Linked DNA regions of Homo sapiens: region 1 is linked to region 2. The links come from fine-mapping of genetic effects on gene expression. A gene starts in region 2. The other region holds a variant in brackets. All regions are shown on one strand. Distances are from middle to middle.

Evidence for each region.
Region 1: its variant is fine-mapped to the expression of XXYLT1 in whole blood (TOPMed, PIP above 0.99).

The regions. Positions count from the first base shown.
Region 1 is chr3:195,084,500-195,092,834 of GRCh38, reverse strand. The region is part of intron 3 of XXYLT1 (xyloside xylosyltransferase 1); the gene reads left to right. Among named protein-coding and RNA genes, the nearest start is that of XXYLT1-AS1, 5.9 kb to the left of the region's middle. The variant G/T (reference allele first, on the strand shown) is at 4,985.
Region 2 is chr3:195,267,857-195,276,191 of GRCh38, reverse strand. It overlaps XXYLT1 (xyloside xylosyltransferase 1), which reads left to right and starts at 5,033. Exons shown (of 4, transcript NM_152531.5): 1 at 5,033-5,637. The coding sequence starts at 5,134. ACAP2 (ArfGAP with coiled-coil, ankyrin repeat and PH domains 2) reads left to right here. Exons shown (of 23, transcript NM_012287.6): 23 at 1-1,447. RefSeq lists silencers at 4,403-4,632, 4,883-5,412, 5,573-5,752 and an enhancer at 5,003-5,794.

The DNA of each region.
Region 1 (8,335 bases), 180 kb after region 2:
TCTTGTAAATTTGTTTGAGTTCATTGTAGATTCTGGATATTAGCCCTCTGTCGGATGAGTTGGTTGCGAAAATTTTCTCCCATTCTGTAGGTTGCCTGTTCACTCTGATGGTAGTTTCTTTTGCTGTGCAGAAGCTCTTTAGTTTAATTAGATCCCATTTGTCAATTTTGTCTTTTGTTGCCATTGCTTTTGGTGTTTTAGACATGAAGTCCTTGCCCATGCCTATGTCCTGAATGGTAATGCCTAGGTTTTCTTCTAGGGTTTTTATGGTTTTAGGTCTAACGTTTAAGTCTTTAATCCATCTTGAATTGATTTTTGTATAAGGTGTAAGGAAGGGATCCAGTTTCAGCTTTCTACATATGGCTAGCCAGTTTTCCCAGCACCATTTATTAAATAGGGAATCCGTTCCCCATTACTTGTTTTTGTCAGGTTTGTCAAAGATCAGATAGTTGTAGACATGCGGCGTTATTTCTGAGGGCTCTGTTCTGTTCCGTTGGCCTATATCTCTGTTTTGGTACCAGTACCATGCTGTTTTGGTTACTGTAGCCTTGTAATATAGTTTGAAGTCAGGTAGTGTGATGCCTCCAGCTTTGTTCTTTTGGCTTAGGATTGACTTGGCGATGCGGGCTCTTTTTTGGTTCCAGATGAACTTTAAAGTAGTTTTTTCCAATTCTGTGAAGAAAGTCATTGGTAGCTTGATGGGGATGGCATTGAATCTGTAAATTACCTTGGGCAGTATGGCCATTTTCACGATATTGATTCTTCCTACCCATGAGCATGGCATGTTCTTCCATTTGTTTGTATCCTCTTTTATTTCCTTGAGCAGAGGTTTGTAGTTCTCCTTGAAGAGGTCCTTCACATCCCTTGTAAGTTGGATTCCTAGGTATTTTATTCTCTTTGAAGCAATTGTGAATGGGAGTTCACTCATGATTTGGCTCTCTGTTTGTCTGTTGTTGGTGTATAAGAATGCTTGTGATTTTTGTACATTGATTTTGTATCCTGAGACTTTGCTGAAGTTGCTTATCAGCTTAAGGAGATTTTGGGCTGAGACAATGGGGTTTTCTAGATATACAATCATGTCGTCTGCAAACAGGGACAATTTGACTTCCTCTTTTCCTAATTGAATACCCTTTATTTCCTTCTCCTGCCTAATTGCCCTGGCCAGAACTTCCAACACTATGTTGAATAGGAGTGGTGAGAGAGGGCATCCCTGTCTTGTGCCAGTTTTCAAAGGGAATGCTTCCAGTTTTTGCCCATTCAGTATGATATTGGCTGTGGGTTTGTCATAGATAGCTCTTATTATTTTGAAATACATCCCATCAATACCTAATTTATTGAGAGTTTTTAGCATGAAGGGTTGTTGAATTTTGTCAAAGGCTTTTTCTGCATCTATTGAGATAATCATGTGGTTTTTGTCTTTGGCTCTGTTTACCTGCTGGATTACATTTATTGATTTGCGTATATTGAACCAGCCTTGCATCCCAGGGATGAAGCCCACTTGATCATGGTGAATAAGCTTTTTGATGTGCTGCTGGATTCGTTTTGCCAGTATTTTATTGAGGATTTTTGCATCAATGTTCATCAAGGATATTGGTCTAAAATTCTCTTTTTTTGTTGTGTCTCTGCCTGGCTTTGGTATCAGAATGATGCTGGCCTCATAAAATGAGTTAGGGAGGATTCCCTCTTTTTCTATTGATTGAAATAGTTTCAGAAGGAATGGTACCAGTTCCTCCTTGTACCTCTGGTAGAATTCGGCTGTGAATCCATCTGGTGCTGGACTCTTTTTGATTGGTAAGCTATTGATTATTGCCACAATTTCAGCTCCTGTTATTGGTCTATTCAGAGATTCAACTTCTTCCTGGTTTAGTCTTGGGAGAGTGTATACGTCGAGGAATTTATCCATTTCTTCTAGGTTTTCTAGTTTATTTGTGTAGAGGTGTTTGTAGTATTCTCTGATGGTAGTTTGTATTTCTGTGAGATCGGTGGTGATATCCCCTTTATCATTTTTTATTGCGTCTATTTGATTCTTCTCTCTTTTTTTCTTTATTAGTCTTGCTAGTGGTCTATCAATTTTGTTGATCCTTTCAAAAAACCAGCTCCTGGATTCATTAATTTTTTGAAGGGTTTTTTGTGTCTCTATTTCCTTCAGTTCTGCTCTGATTTTAGTTATTTCTTGCCTTCTGCTAGCTTTTGAATGTGTTTGCTCTTGCTTTTCTAGTTCTTTTAATTGTGATGTTAGGGTGTCAATTTTGGATCTTTCCTGCTTTCTCTTGTGGCATTTAGTGCTATAAATGTCCCTCTACACACTGCTTTGAATGCGTCCCAGAGATTCTGGTATGTTGTGTCTTTGTTCTTGTTGGTTTCAAAGAACATCTTTATTTCTGCCTTCATTTCGTTATGTACCCAGTAGTCATTCAGGAGCAGGTTGTTCAGTTTCCGTGTAGTTGAGTGGTTTTGAGTGAGATTCTTAATCCTGAGTTCTAGTTTGATTGCACTGTGGTCTGAGAGATAGTTTGTTATAATTTCTGTTCTTTTACATTTGCTGAGGAGAGCTTTACTTCCAAGTATGTGGTCAATTTTGGAGTAGGTGTGGTGTGGTGCTGAAAAAAATGTATATTCTGTTGATTTGGGGTGGAGAGTTCTGTAGATGTCTATTAGGTCCGCTTGGTGCAGAGCTGAGTTCAATTCCTGGGTATCCTTGTTGACTTTCTGTCTCCTTGATCTGTCTAATGTTGACAGTGGGGTGTTAAAGTCTCCCATTATTAATGTGTGGGAGTCTAAGTCTCTTTGTAGGTCACTCAGGACTTGCTTTATGAATCTTGGTGCTCCTGTATTGGGTGCATATATATTTAGGATAGTTAGCTCTTCTTGTTGAATTGATCCCTTTACCATTATGTAATGGCCTTCTTTGTCTCTTTTTATCTTTGTTGCTTTAAAGTCTGTTTCATCAGAGACTAGGATTGCAACCCCTGCCTTTTTTTGTTTTCCATTGGCTTGGTAGATCTTCCTCCATCCTTTTATTTTGAGCCTATGTGTGTCTCTGCATGTGAGATGGGTTTCCTGAATACAGCACACTGATGGGTCTTGACTCTTTATCCAATTTGCCAGTCTGTGTCTTTTAATTGGAGCATTTAGTCCATTTACATTTAAAGTTAATATTGTTATGTGTGAATTTGATCCTGTCATTATGATGCTAGCTGGTTATTGTGCTCGTTAGTTGATGCAGTTTCTTCCTAGTCTCGATGGTCTTTACATTTTGGCATGATTTTGCAGCGGCTGGTACCGGTTGTTCCCTTCCATGTTTAGCGCTTCCTTCAGGAGCTCTTTTAGGGCAGGCCTGGTGGTGACAAAATCTCTCAGCATTTGTTTGTCTGTAAAGTATTTTATTTCTCCTTCACTTATGAAGCTTAGTTTGGCTGGATATGAAATTCTGCGTTGAAAATCCTTTTCTTTAAGAATGTTGAATATTGGCCCCCACTCTCTTCTGGCTTGTAGGGTTTCTGCCGAGAGATCCACTGTTAGTCTGATGGGCTTCCCTTTGTGGGTAACCCGACCTTTCTCTCTGGCTGCCCTTAACATTTTTTCCTTCATTTCAACTTTGGTAAATCTGACAATTATGTGTCTTGGAGTTGCTCTTCTCGAGGAGTATCTTTGTGGCGTTCTCTGTATTTCCTGAATCTGAACGTTGGCCTGCCTTGCTAGATTGGGGAAGTTCTCCTGGATAATATCCTGCAGAGTGTTTTCCAACTTGGTTCCATTCTCCCCATCACTTTCAGGTACACCAATCAGACGTAGATTTGGTCTTTTCACATAGTCCCATATTTCCTGGAGGCTTTGCTCATTTCTTTTTATTGTTTTTTCTCTAAACTTCCCTTCTTGCTTCATTTCATTCATTTCATCTTCCATTGCTGATACCCTTTCTTCCAGTTGATTGCATCGGCTCCTGAGGCTTCTGCATTCTTCACGTAGTTCTCGAGCCTTGGTTTTCAGCTCCATCAGCTCCTTTAAGCACTTCTCTGTATTGGTTATTCTAGTTATATATTCTTCTAAATTTTTTTCAAAGTTTTCAACTTCTTTGCCTTTGGTTTGAATGTCCTCCCGTAGCTCAGAGTAATTTGATCGTCTGAAGCCTTCTTCTCTCAGCTCGTCAAAGTCATTCTCCATCCAGCTTTGTTCTGTTGCTGGTGAGGAACTGCGTTCCTTTGGAGGAGGAGAGGTGCTCTGCTTTTTAGAGTTTCCAGTTTTTCTGTTCTGTTTTTTCCCCATCTTTGTGGTTTTATCTACTTTTGGTCTTTGATGATGGTGATGTACAGATGGGTTTTTGGTGTGGATGTCCTTTCTGTTTGTTAGTTTTCCTTCTAACAGACAGGACCCTCAGCTGCAGGTCTGTTGGAGTACCCGGCCCTGTGAGGTGCCCCGCTGGGGGGTGCCTCCCAGTTAGGCTGCTCGGGGGTCAGGGGTCAGGGACCCACTTGAGGAGGCAGTCTGCCCGTTCTCAGATCTCCAGCTGCGTGCTGGGAGAACCACTGCTCTCTTCAAAGCTGTCAGACAGGGACCTTTAAGTCTGCAGAGGTTACTGCTGTCTTTTTGTTTGTCTGTGCCCTGCCCCCAGAGGTGGAGCCTACAGAGGCAGGCAGGCCTCCTTGAGCTGTGGTGGGCTCCACCCAGTTCGAGCTTCCCGGCTGCTTTGTTTACCTAATCAAGCCTGGGCAATGGCGGGCGCCCCTCCCCCAGCCTCGCTGCCACCTTGCAGTTTGATCTCAGACCGCTGTGCTGGCAATCAGCGAGACTCCGTGGGGTAGGACCCTCCGAGCCAGGTGCGGGATGTAATCTCGTGGTGCGCCGTTTTTTAAGCCCGTTGGAAAAGCGCAGTATTCAGGTGGGAGTGACCCGATTTTCCAGGTGCGTCTGTCACCCCTTTCTTTGACTCCCTTTGAAAGGGAACTCCCTGACCCCTTGCGCTTCCCAAGTGAGGCTTTGCCTC[G/T]CCCTGCTTCGGCTCGCGCACGGTGCGCGCACCCACTGACCTGCGCCCACTGTCTGGCACTCCCTAGTGAGATGAACCCGGTACCTCAGATGGAAATGCAGAAATCACCGTCTTCTGCGTCGCTCACGCTGGGAGCTGTACACCAGAGCTGTTCCTATTCGGCCATCTTGGCTCCTCCAGTAGCATCTAATTTTAATGCCCGCTTTGATCTGGCTGTTAAAAATTCCACTCTTTATGTTCATTCAAATTCCAGTTGGCTGTTCTGGGTAAGCCCAGGCCCCAGTGCCCTATCCGGAGAGAGCTGAGAAGTTGCAGGCCCTGCGTGCAGGGAGCCTGACTGCCTTGTCTCTGTGCTCTACCAGCTCCAGGCATACCTGTGTTGATACCTGAATAGAGCGCGCAGTGGGGAGAGACAGGGAGGGTAGCTCAGATGCTTTTCTGCTTTCACAGGGAGCACCCCAAGCACAGCAGATTTTCAAGAGATTTATCTGGAAGGCCTGGAGAAGCAACTCAAGCACAAGGGATCTGAGGAGGAGCCAGGGAGCACATTTCCAGTTTAAAGGGGAAAAATGTCTCCCTGGAGAGTGGGTACAAACGGGAAGAGGGCGGAAGAGGAGCTCCAGGGCCACACGCAGCCTGGCAAGGGCAAGGCCGGCTGTGTCCAGAGGAGCAGGAAAGGCGGGTTTGCTGCAGGCCACCTGGAGAGACGGTGGCGTGTCAACGGGCCACACGGGCAGTGCCTCCCAGCCCCCTTACTGCTCCCCGCAGCCTGCCCTGAGTTTAGAGAAGCTGCACCGAGGCAGGAGGAGGTGACCACAGTGCTGCCACCAAGGCGACCTGGAGCTGGGAAGGCCTAGGAGGCCACTCTCCCTCCTTGTGGTACAGGTGGGAGGTATCGGGGAGGGGCCTGGCCAGTGTCATCATGCAAGTCACTGATCATGATTAGAACAGCCACTGCCACTGACCCCATAGCCAGAATGCTCAAGACAGAAGCCAGGACCCGGAGCTCTTTGTCCCCCTTCATCACCTACATGCATCCGTTCTTAGAGCTAGTCATACACCTGCTAAGTATCTCCTAAACCCTTTGCTTGTCTCCATCCTTGGCACTGCCACCCTCCCCCCCATCACCAAAGCATCCTCCTGCCTGGTCTTGCTGCTTCCAGCCCTTCCTCCTCCATGCCAGTGCCCACCCAGCCAGAGTGACCTTCCTCATACCTCGCTTCAAACCTTTTGTTCCCTTTAGCAGCAAGGTCAGCTTCCCTGACCTTCCTCACAGGGCCCATCCTAAACTGGCCCTGGCTCATAGTCAGGCCTCTGACCCCACAGCCCCTGCCCCTAACCACTGTGTTTGTTGAATACAACTGGATAGACTTCTCCCCTACAGGTCTGTGGTCTCTGCTGAAATGCATTCACATGCATGGAGACAGGGAAACAGCCTCTGTTCCAGGGAAGCAGGGGTAGGGGAGCGGCCGAGACGCCAGACCTGGCTACCTTTGATAAGTTGTTTATTTTCTGAAGCAGACAGTTCTGATAAAGCCGTCGTAATGATGCTCCTTGATCCAACCTAGCACGATAGGAATCTGAGCTGGCCTGTCAGAAGGACAGATTGTTTTGTGGATTTTCTTCCCTTAAAAAAAAAGAAAAATTTAAAAGCAAGGACAGTGCTGTAGAGTGCTGAGCTGTAAGGCTTCGAGGCACACAGCGCGGCCAGCTGTGGGGCAGGCTGGGGGCAAGCTGGGTGTTTGGGGGTGCTGGAAACCAGGTCTGTTTTGCCCAGGTGTGCTCTGTGTGTACAAATGGCCTTTAATGCAGCTGCCCCTGTCCACAGGCCCCAGGCAGTCCTTGAAAGAGAAGCTTGAAAAGTCAAGTTTGGGTCTTCTGCAGCTCGGGCACCACCGAGTCATAGTGAGTGTTGGCCTCCGCAAGGCCTGACAGCACAGAGGACAGAGGTGAGTGGGGGCAGCTGCCTCAGGGGCTAGCCTCGGGGTGGGGGAGGAGGCTAGCCCAGCAAGCTTTTGAGGCACCTCTTTCCTGTGTTGGGTATGAGGTGAGTGCTCAGAGCAGTGGCTCTGTCACCACAGTCGAAGGACAGTGAGGCTAGTGGCGACCTGACGGTTTTGAACCAAACTCTGGGCCAGCCCCTGGTGGAATGGAGTGGTCTCGCCGCATCAGTCTGGAACTCTACTAGGATTGTCACCAGACACGGTTGTGGCTCGCGGCTGCCCACCGCGGCCCGCAGGATGACTGGGCTCTTGGAGCTGTGAGGGAGCACAGGAGCTAAGCTCCTGCTCCTTTCTCTCTGACCGCACTGCTGTGCTTCTCGAGTAGAACTGGGTGGACTCCCCCCTCCCACCGCGGTCTCTGGTGAAATGCGCTGGCATGCTTAGACATGGGGATGGAGGCTCCATTCTAGGGAACCAGGGATGGGAGAGTGGCAGAGATGCCAGACCTGGACACCTTGGGTGAGTTGCGTATTTTCTGAACCAGCTTGGAGCCGGAGCGGCAGGGCCAGGGGTGGGGACCAGGACTGTGACACTGGTACTGAGTCACCATTCCCAAGAGGTTTGGAGAGGTCGGAAGGGGTGTTGAGCCAAAGGGCAAATCCAGATATTCTCTCTCCAAAGCCCGTGCTCCTCTGAACTGTTCTCCAGGGACCTCACTCAGCCCCTTTTGTCCCCAACTTGAACTTTCATATGGCAATCATTTCTTTTCCTACTTGACCTCGTGCAAGGAGAGGATTTAGAGCACTGTAACTCCCATGGGGGTCATCCTTGCTTGGGAGAAGGTTACGTCCACGTGAAGACTCTGCGGCTGCTCAGATGAACCACACACTCTGGAGGTTTTTGGCATTTCGAGGGTCTGGAAGTGGCTGCCTTGCTAGGCCTCCCTTTCCTACCCTCAGCTTCTGCAACTGGCAGGAGCTGCTGTCTTGGGCACCATTAGAGAAGCTCCCCTGCCAAGAGCCAAGGTGTACTGTCCCCAGCATGGAGAATGGTCCTGCCATCAGAGTGGGCTCTCCAGGATGAGGGTGTCTGTGTGATTCACTGTGCTCTTCACATCCTGGACCCTGAAGCCTAATTGAATGAATGAATCCCTGGGGTTGGGTTTCTGGGGCCGATGGAGTCCTGTGATCGTGTGTAGTGGTGGGAGTTTTGCCTAGAACATCCTTGGGTGGTTTAACTCACTAAAATACAGCAAGTGAAGAACAGCAGGCTGCAAGGGCTGACCTAAGTATTTTAGGGAAAGAATTGGACCTCTGAAAAGAGTACGGTTTACTTTGCTCAAAATCTGGGTTGCATGAAATACATTACACTGAGGCTGCCATCTCGCTGGTGGGAAAGGCTGCAGGCA
Region 2 (8,335 bases):
AAAAAAGTACACATTCAGAATCTGGCCAATTTAAGTTTGTATTTTAAAAATATTTTATGCATGTTAAGTATGGTCGCAGTAAATGAAATTGTGTTTAAGACTAAATTTACTACCGTTTTGAACAGACATTCCCAGATCATTCTTATATTGTCAGATAACACTTGTGTATAATATCACTTTGGATCATGGACATGAGCTGGAAAAATGATGTATTTTTGTAGATTGTATGTCCAGAATGACTTTAGAACCGCATGATACGGTGGAAGGAGCACTGGACTAGTCGTCACTACCCTTTTTGGATTCAGGGCTCCTCACAATTAAAATGAGTGTAATGAAACAAGGTGAAAATATAGAAGCATCCCTTTGTATACTGTTTTGCTACTTACAGTGTACTTGGCATTGCTTTATCTCACTGGATTCTCATGGTAGGATTTCTGAGATCTTAATCTAAGCTCCAAAGTTGTCTACTTTTTTGATCCTAGGGTGCTCCTTTTGTTTTACAGAGCAGGGTCACTTGATTTGCTAGCTGGTGGCAGAATTGGCACCATTACCCAGGTCTGACTGACCACCAGTCAGAGGCACTTTATTTGTATCATGAAATGATTTGAAATCATTGTAAAGCAGCGAAGTCTGATAATGAATGCCAGCTTTCCTTGTGCTTTGATAACAAAGACTCCAAATATTCTGGAGAACCTGGATAAAAGTTTGAAGGGCTAGATTGGGATTTGAAGACAAAATTGTAGGAAATCTTACATTTTTGCAATAACAAACATTAATGAAAGCAAAACATTATAAAAGTAATTTTAATTCACCACATACTTATCAATTTCTTGATGCTTCCAAATGACATCTACAGATATGGTTTTGTGGACATCTTTTTCTGTTTACATAAATTTATCCACTTAAAATGTGATAATGTGGAGACAAAGCAAGATTTGATTACATAAACTTTTCTCTGCATTGGTCTTTTCACTATCTTATTTGCTAACTTTTCTTATTTTTCTTCAACCTCCCCACCCTCCATTTTTTGGATATTAAACAGGGAAAGCTTGCTACATTATAAAGATTGTTGGCACCATTTATTTTACACAAAGGCTAAAGGTTAACTTTTGGAAATGATGAGCTACTTTTATATATGTGTTTACTCATGCTTTGTGATATTTCTGGATCATTCCAGTCATAAAGACTTATTACATGTACTATTTCTTGCTACCTGTGAAAAGGTATATTTTAAAGAATGTATAACCAACAGTCCATTTACTTTTTATTAGTATGTAGAGGATTTGTATCTAATTCATGAATGTAGTTTTACAGTAGTTTGTCATTGTAAATGGAGCAAAGTACATTATCTTCTAAAATGTACATTATGTAAGAATTGTAAATATACTTAAGTAATTTGTATGCCAAAAAATTACAATAAGTCAATAAAGATCTCACCTCTGGCTTAGTTCTTTCATGGTGATTTACATTTTCTTGTGAAATACACTGTGAACATATCTGTCAACAGCAGTTATTTTTAAGGTACTATTATTTTTAAGGTATTTCTTCCCAGCCCTTTCAAATCCACATTCATCCTATTTGCTGATTACTTCAATCAAGAAATCCATTTGGATCTTTTAAGTATATAATTCTCTTTGTTCACAGAGCTGTTATAGCCCCTAATTCATTGGCAAAAAGATAAAAGGTTTTTTTTGGGGGGTGGGGGGAGGGGCTTGCTCTAAGTTTTTTCCATTATGATTGACATTAATGTTCCTAATCTATGCAGCACATTCCCATTTTATCCTTTTAGTAAACAGACACACACACGTTTGTCAGTGAATTGGGACTGAAGGAATGGAAGGTTGAAAAAACCAAACTGGAAGTGTATCACCTGCATTTGCTTTAAAAAAAAAAAAGCTAATTGAAAGCAGACACATAAACTTTTCAATATAACTTGCTTTATTCAGCTTCATTTCATTTTCAGAATAGTTCTGTGGAGAACCCACATCAATAGTCTATAAATATTTTAAGTGAAAACAGTTTAATTTTTCAATTATTGCAAACACAAAGCTTTTTGCTTGTGGAGAAATGTTAAGAAGAAGCAAGAGAATCATCCACAATTCCATTATCTTGTGCTGTCCAAAATGGAACTCACTAGCTACATGTGGCTACTTAATTGGAATTAGACAAAGAGTTCATTTCCTCAGTCGTACTGCTACATTTTAAGAACTTTATAGCCCCATGTGGCTAGTGACTATTGTTTTGAACAGGGGAGATTGTAGAATATATACATTGTCACAGGAAGTTCTACTGGATAGCACTGAGGGAGATACTGTTACTTTTTTGTGTATACCCTTCTAGACCTTTGGGTGTGTGTATTCATACATTTATATAATGGGATCATACAGTTACCCACTTCTTTCACTTAATAGATGGGGAGAACTTTATGGGAAATTTCAAGCATGTACAGGTAGAGAAAATCAATAGCTATAAGCTCATGGCTTATATTTGTTCTCCTACCCATTTTTCCCCTTTCCTGGACTTTTTGGAACCAGATCCTAGACCTTTCACCAGCAAATCATTCCGTATGTACATCTAAAAGTTGAGGACTTTAAAAAATCGTAACACTTCTTAAACTGTAAAACTACATAATCAATATTCAAATTGGTTTCTCAAATACGATTTTTAAAATAGATCGTGCAAATCAGAATTCACATAAGTTCCATACGTTGCAGTTGGTGAATATGTTTCTTAGTCTCTGTAGGTTTTTTTTTCCATTTGTTACCATTACTATTTTTTTTTTGGAATTGGGGTCTCGCACTGTCATCCAGGCTGGAGTCCTGTGGCGATCGTAGCTCACTGCAGCCTTGGACCCCTGAGCTCAAGTGATCCTCCCACCTCAGTCTCCCACATAGCTTGGAGTACGGGTATGAGCCACCTCACCCATTTGTTAGTTTTTTAAATTTCCACCTGCAGTTTGTTGAAAACATCACTTTTAATGACTGCATTATTTTAGCTTTAACCACTTTATTGATGACCATTTGATTCTGATTTTTTGCCATCATGAACCTAGCTTTGCTTTATTTTTATGTTTGTTTTTTGAGACAGGGTCTCGCTCTCTTTCGCCAGGCTAGAGTACAGAGGCACAATCTCGGCTCACTGCATCCTCTGCCTCCTAGGTTCAAGCGATTCTCTTGCCTCAGCCTCTCGAGTAGCTGGAATTGCAGGTGTCCGCCACCACACTGCCTACTTTTTTTTTTTTTTTGAGACAGGGTTTTGCTCTTGTCGCCCAGGCTGGAGTGCAGTGTTATGATCTCGGCTCACTGCATCCTCTGCCTCCTAGGTTCAAGCGATTCTCTTGCCTCAGCCTCTCGAGTAGCTGGAATTGCAGGTGTCCGCCACCACACTGCCTACTTTTTTTTTTTTTTTGAGACAGAGTTTTGCTCTTGTCGCCCAGGCTGGAGTGCAGTGTTATGATCTCGGCTCACTGCAACCTCCACCTCCCAGGTTCAAGCGATTCTTCTGCCTCAGCCTCCTGAGTAGCTGGGATTACAGGCGCCCGCCACCATGTCTGGCTAATTTTTTGTATTTTTAGTAGAGACGGGGTTTCGCCATGTTGGGCAGGCTGGTCTCGAACTCCTGGCCTAAGGTGATCTGCCCTCCTCGGCCTCCCAAAGTGCTAGGATTACAGGCGTGAGCCACCATTCCCGGCCTAAGCCACCATGCTTGGCCTTGCTTTATTCTTATGGTTAAATATTTTGAACATTCTTAAATTATTAGGAAGATTTTCTAGAAATAAAAATGCTGTTTCAATGGTTGAGTATATTTTTGAGACTCATCCAATGTGGTAGGCACCGTGTTAGGTACTGGGTATATTGTGGTTAATAAAAAACAAATGTATATTCTGTTCTCTTGGAGTCACGTGTTCTTGCAATGAAGAAAGATGAGACTAGGGTAGTACATATATTTAGGTGGCCCTCACAGAATTATTGAGGATGGCACTTAGCCCAGACACTGGATAGGAGGTATTTAGAGATCATTTGTGTAGGTAGTGACATGTAAGCCAAGGTCTGAAGCAGAGAGGTTGGATAATCCATGCAACCTTACAATGTGGAAATAACAGGAAAAACCGTTTACCTAATCTCTGGTCAGAAATCAGAGAACTTGGCCAAAGAACTGAAGGGTTACTGTACTTACTCAAGTTCTTTGTCTATTTAGACAGCATGCACAGCACTTGCACGTGTTTACTTAAAAACTACTGGTATAGCCTCAATTCTTAGAAGACTGAAGTTAGTACGTTTTTATCTAGTTAGCAGTGTGCAACTGCCTAGGGTCAAAATTGCTACTGGCTAGCTGTGTGACTTTGGGCACGTGACCTCGGCGTGCAAAACTCCCTGGTACCCTCAAGGAGGCTCTTGATAAAGTGTTAAAAGTCTGTTTATAAAACAAAAGTGGATGAATGTCGCCCTCCAGGGCTTTGCGGTGCTGGGGCTCGGGGAGCAGCCTCGCAGGTTCGTGCGGGCGGCGGGGGCCCCCTGCTGGCCACATCCTCCAGCCTCCCTCCGCTCGGCCTCCGGCGCGACGTGCGGCCCGGGCCATTTCCTCCCAGGGCGGGGGAAAAGGGAGGAGCTGCCGGTTTAAATTGCCTAGCTGCAGCTCGTGTGCAGGGAGAGGCCGAGACGGCTTAAAGCCTCCAAGAAATTGAGGGAAAAAAGGTGCAGAGATTAAAGTTTTACCTCTTGGTGCCTCCAGCTTCGCTTTTGGCTAACCTAAGTTCCTCTGTTCGGGCGCCTCCATTCCCTTCAACACTCAGCTTGGATATCCTCTGGGGCTCGCCGCGTAGGGCGCCATTTCTCAGCCGGGACAGCGGGCCAGCCCTCAGCACGCTGGAGTCCGGAATCCCCCCCTCCCAACGCCGGGCGCCGGATCCCACCCTAACCCCTCCTCTAATACCCTTGGAACCTAGGACCCAGCGGTTTCGGCACGCCCGGCCCCGCCCCTCCGCGCACCGGCGCCCGCGATTGGCTCCAGGCGGCGCGGCCCCGCCCCTTTCATGGCCGCCGCCTGGCGCCGGGGCTAAGTGGCCGCCGGCGTCCGGGTACCCGAGGGCTCTCCCGCGTTGCTGGCACCGCTGGCGCCGCGGTCTCGTAGCGCATGGGCCTCCTCCGAGGCGGGCTCCCATGCGCTCGGGCCATGGCGCGCCTGGGCGCTGTGCGCTCCCACTACTGCGCCCTGCTGCTGGCCGCGGCGCTGGCCGTCTGCGCCTTCTACTACCTCGGCTCAGGCCGGGAGACCTTCTCCAGCGCCACCAAGAGGCTGAAGGAGGCCCGCGCCGGGGCTCCCGCCGCGCCCTCGCCGCCCGCGCTGGAGCTAGCGCGGGGCTCCGTGGCGCCAGCCCCCGGCGCGAAGGCCAAGAGCTTGGAGGGCGGCGGTGCCGGGCCGGTGGACTACCACCTGCTGATGATGTTCACCAAGGCGGAGCACAATGCCGCGCTGCAGGCCAAGGCCCGCGTCGCGCTGCGCTCACTGCTGCGCCTCGCCAAGTTCGAGGCGCACGAGGTGCTTAACCTTCACTTCGTGAGCGAGGAGGCCAGCCGCGAGGTGGCCAAGGGCCTGCTGCGGGAGCTCCTGCCGCCCGCCGCTGGCTTCAAGTGCAAGGTGAGCGGGCCGCGGCTGGGGGCTCCCGGTGGGTGGCCCACCCCATCCTAGGCGAGGTCAGTTTGCGCTCCCGGAGGGGATCCGGGGAACTAGCGGGTAGGATCTTCCCTGAGCTGCCCGCTTGCAATGTAGTGTTCACAACCTGCGGGAGGGCTCGTTCGGGGGCGTGTCCGGGAGCCAGACGCCCTCAGCTGGTGCTGAGGAGTGGAGCTGCGTTTTTAATGACCGCCTCGTTTTCCTCTCCCCCAGTTAAGCGCAGCCCCCAGGAGAGTCCGCGCGCCCCCATTTTGCTAACGTTGCAGGGTTCAGCACTGCCTTCAGAGTCTGCACCTCTGTTTATGTTCCTCAGTTTTTGACTTCTGAGGATGGGACTGGTCACCAGTAGTCATCCTGAGCAACTGGAGAGGGCCTTGGTGAGGCCTCTGGAAGTGTTGAAGTTGCAGTGACACTTCTCATTGCTCTTAAGGTATTTCAGTAGGATCTGGTCAAACTCATTGTGAACCATCTTATCTCCTCTCTGTGTCCCTTTTTCCCCTTCCTCCAAGGGTCATGAACCCATTTAGAGAAGCCTGGAGTTCCTCCGAATGAGGAAGAGAAAGCTCAAGAGGAACAGATATGATCTGGGGAGAGCACAGCTGGCCGCCTTGTCCCAGGCTGGACCAGTCTGCCTCCATGACAGCTTCCATCTCTGTTTATCATCTGTCTTCACTGCCTGGCTCTCCTTGTCTGAGATGTGTTTCTGACATAGTGTGAATTGCCTAGGTCAAATTGCTTATTTGATTTTGACCTAATAGTTGTACAGAGGGGATCCGAGGCCAGATTTTAAGGAGTAGTAGGTAATATTAAAGGGTGGAGACTGATGTTGGTTGGGGAAGCATGCTGAGACAGGAGTTGTATTATGTGAGTGACTAGGGGAGCTGTTGCCAGGATCCTACAGGCTTCGGGAGTCTCTGATAGCTCCTTGTTGCCTACGGGGTGAAGTCCCAGTTTATTGGTAGGGCTGTTGTGTTGTGAGCCTGGTCCACTTCTCTGGCTTCACCTCTCCTCCTTTGTCTACATGCACCTCATACCTTAGCTATGTAGGGAGTGGGCCTTATACATGCTGTACTGTCTGCCCACAGTGTCCTCTTGGGCCCTTGGCCATTCTTTACTCAGCTTTCACCTCTCCTGAGAAAGTCCCTAGACCCTGGGACCTCTGAAGGTCCTCGCTGGAGGAGGAGCCTGGCAACCTGTCCCAGGTGATCCTAATGACCCTAATATTTGAGAAACTTTGCACTAGTTCACGGTAGAAAACTGAGGGCCCTTGGCCATAGGGTCAGTCTGGGCAGATCTTGGGATTTGACCAGGTCTCCAAACACCGCCTTGAAGATAGCATTGTCATCTCTTCTGGGCCTACTCTGCACCGTTGCCGGATCTCTGTCCCCTTGTCCCCAGCTCCCGCTGCAGCGCTAGCTGCACAGCCAGTGCTTTCCAGCCTACTTGCCTTTGCTTTTGTCATTCCCACTGTTGGGGTGCTCCTTCTCTCCATCTCCAAGTCTTGCCCATCTTCAGATACCATCCCCTCCTTGGAGCCAAGGAAGCGTCCCTTCTTTCCTTTTCTACTTCCCTGGTGCTGTGACTGTATCATGTCTTATCATCCATCCCTATGTACAATGCCTGGCACTCTTAGTTGGCACCAGAAATATTGGCCCAGGGGTAGATCCAGCCTCAGGGCCGAGCCCCTCCTGTCTTGGAGTAAGTGTTTCATGCTCGGACTACCCCACTTTACTGGGCCCAGTTCTGGCAGCCTCACTCAAGGCCTGGAGGCAGCTGCAAATGACCAGAGGGAACTGATACCTCCTCTGTTGAGGGGTGAGGGTTTAGTGTCTGGGGACTTCTAGCCAGATGTCAGTGATTGGATAAGGGGTTATCAGTCCTGGCATAAAATTGCTCCCGTTACTTCTTTTTTTTTTTTGTGAGATGGAGTTTCGCTCTTGTTGCCTAGGCTGGAGTGCAGTGGCACGATCTCAGCTCACTGCAACCTCTGCCTCCTGGGTTCGAGCGATTCTGCCTCAGCCTCTCGAGTAGCTGGAATTACAGGTGCCCACCACCACGCTGGCTAAATTTTTTGTTTTTTTTTTTTTGAGACAGAGTTTTGCTCTTGTCGCCCAGGCTGGAGTGCAACAGTGTGATCTCGGCTCACTGCAACCTCTGCCTCCAAGGTTCAAGTGATTCTCCTGGCCCAGCCTCCTGAGTAGCTGGGATTACAGGCGCCCGCCACCACGCCCGGCTAATTTTTTGTATTTTTAGTAGAGATGGGGTTTCATCATGTTGGCCAGGCTGGTCTCAAATTCCTGACCTCAGGTGATCCACCCACCTTGGCCTCTCAAAGTGCTGGAATTACAGGCGTGAACCACCGCGCCTGGCCTCCGTTACTTTGTTTTGTTTTGTTTTTGATAAGAATTCTTGCTATGTTGCCCAGGCTGGTCTTGAACTCCTGAGCTCAAGCAATTCTCTTGCCTTAGCCTCCTGCATAGCTGGGATTACAGGCACACACCACTGCACCTGGCATTCCCATGATTTTTGAGTTCATATTTTGTAAATTTTTCTGTTTGTGATGAAAAGTGCTCTTTTTTTCCTTTAAATGTGCGATTCTAAAAGGTTTGCTTCATTTTACTTGTGATTTAATTCTTCCTCAGGTTTGGAATATTCCTGAAAA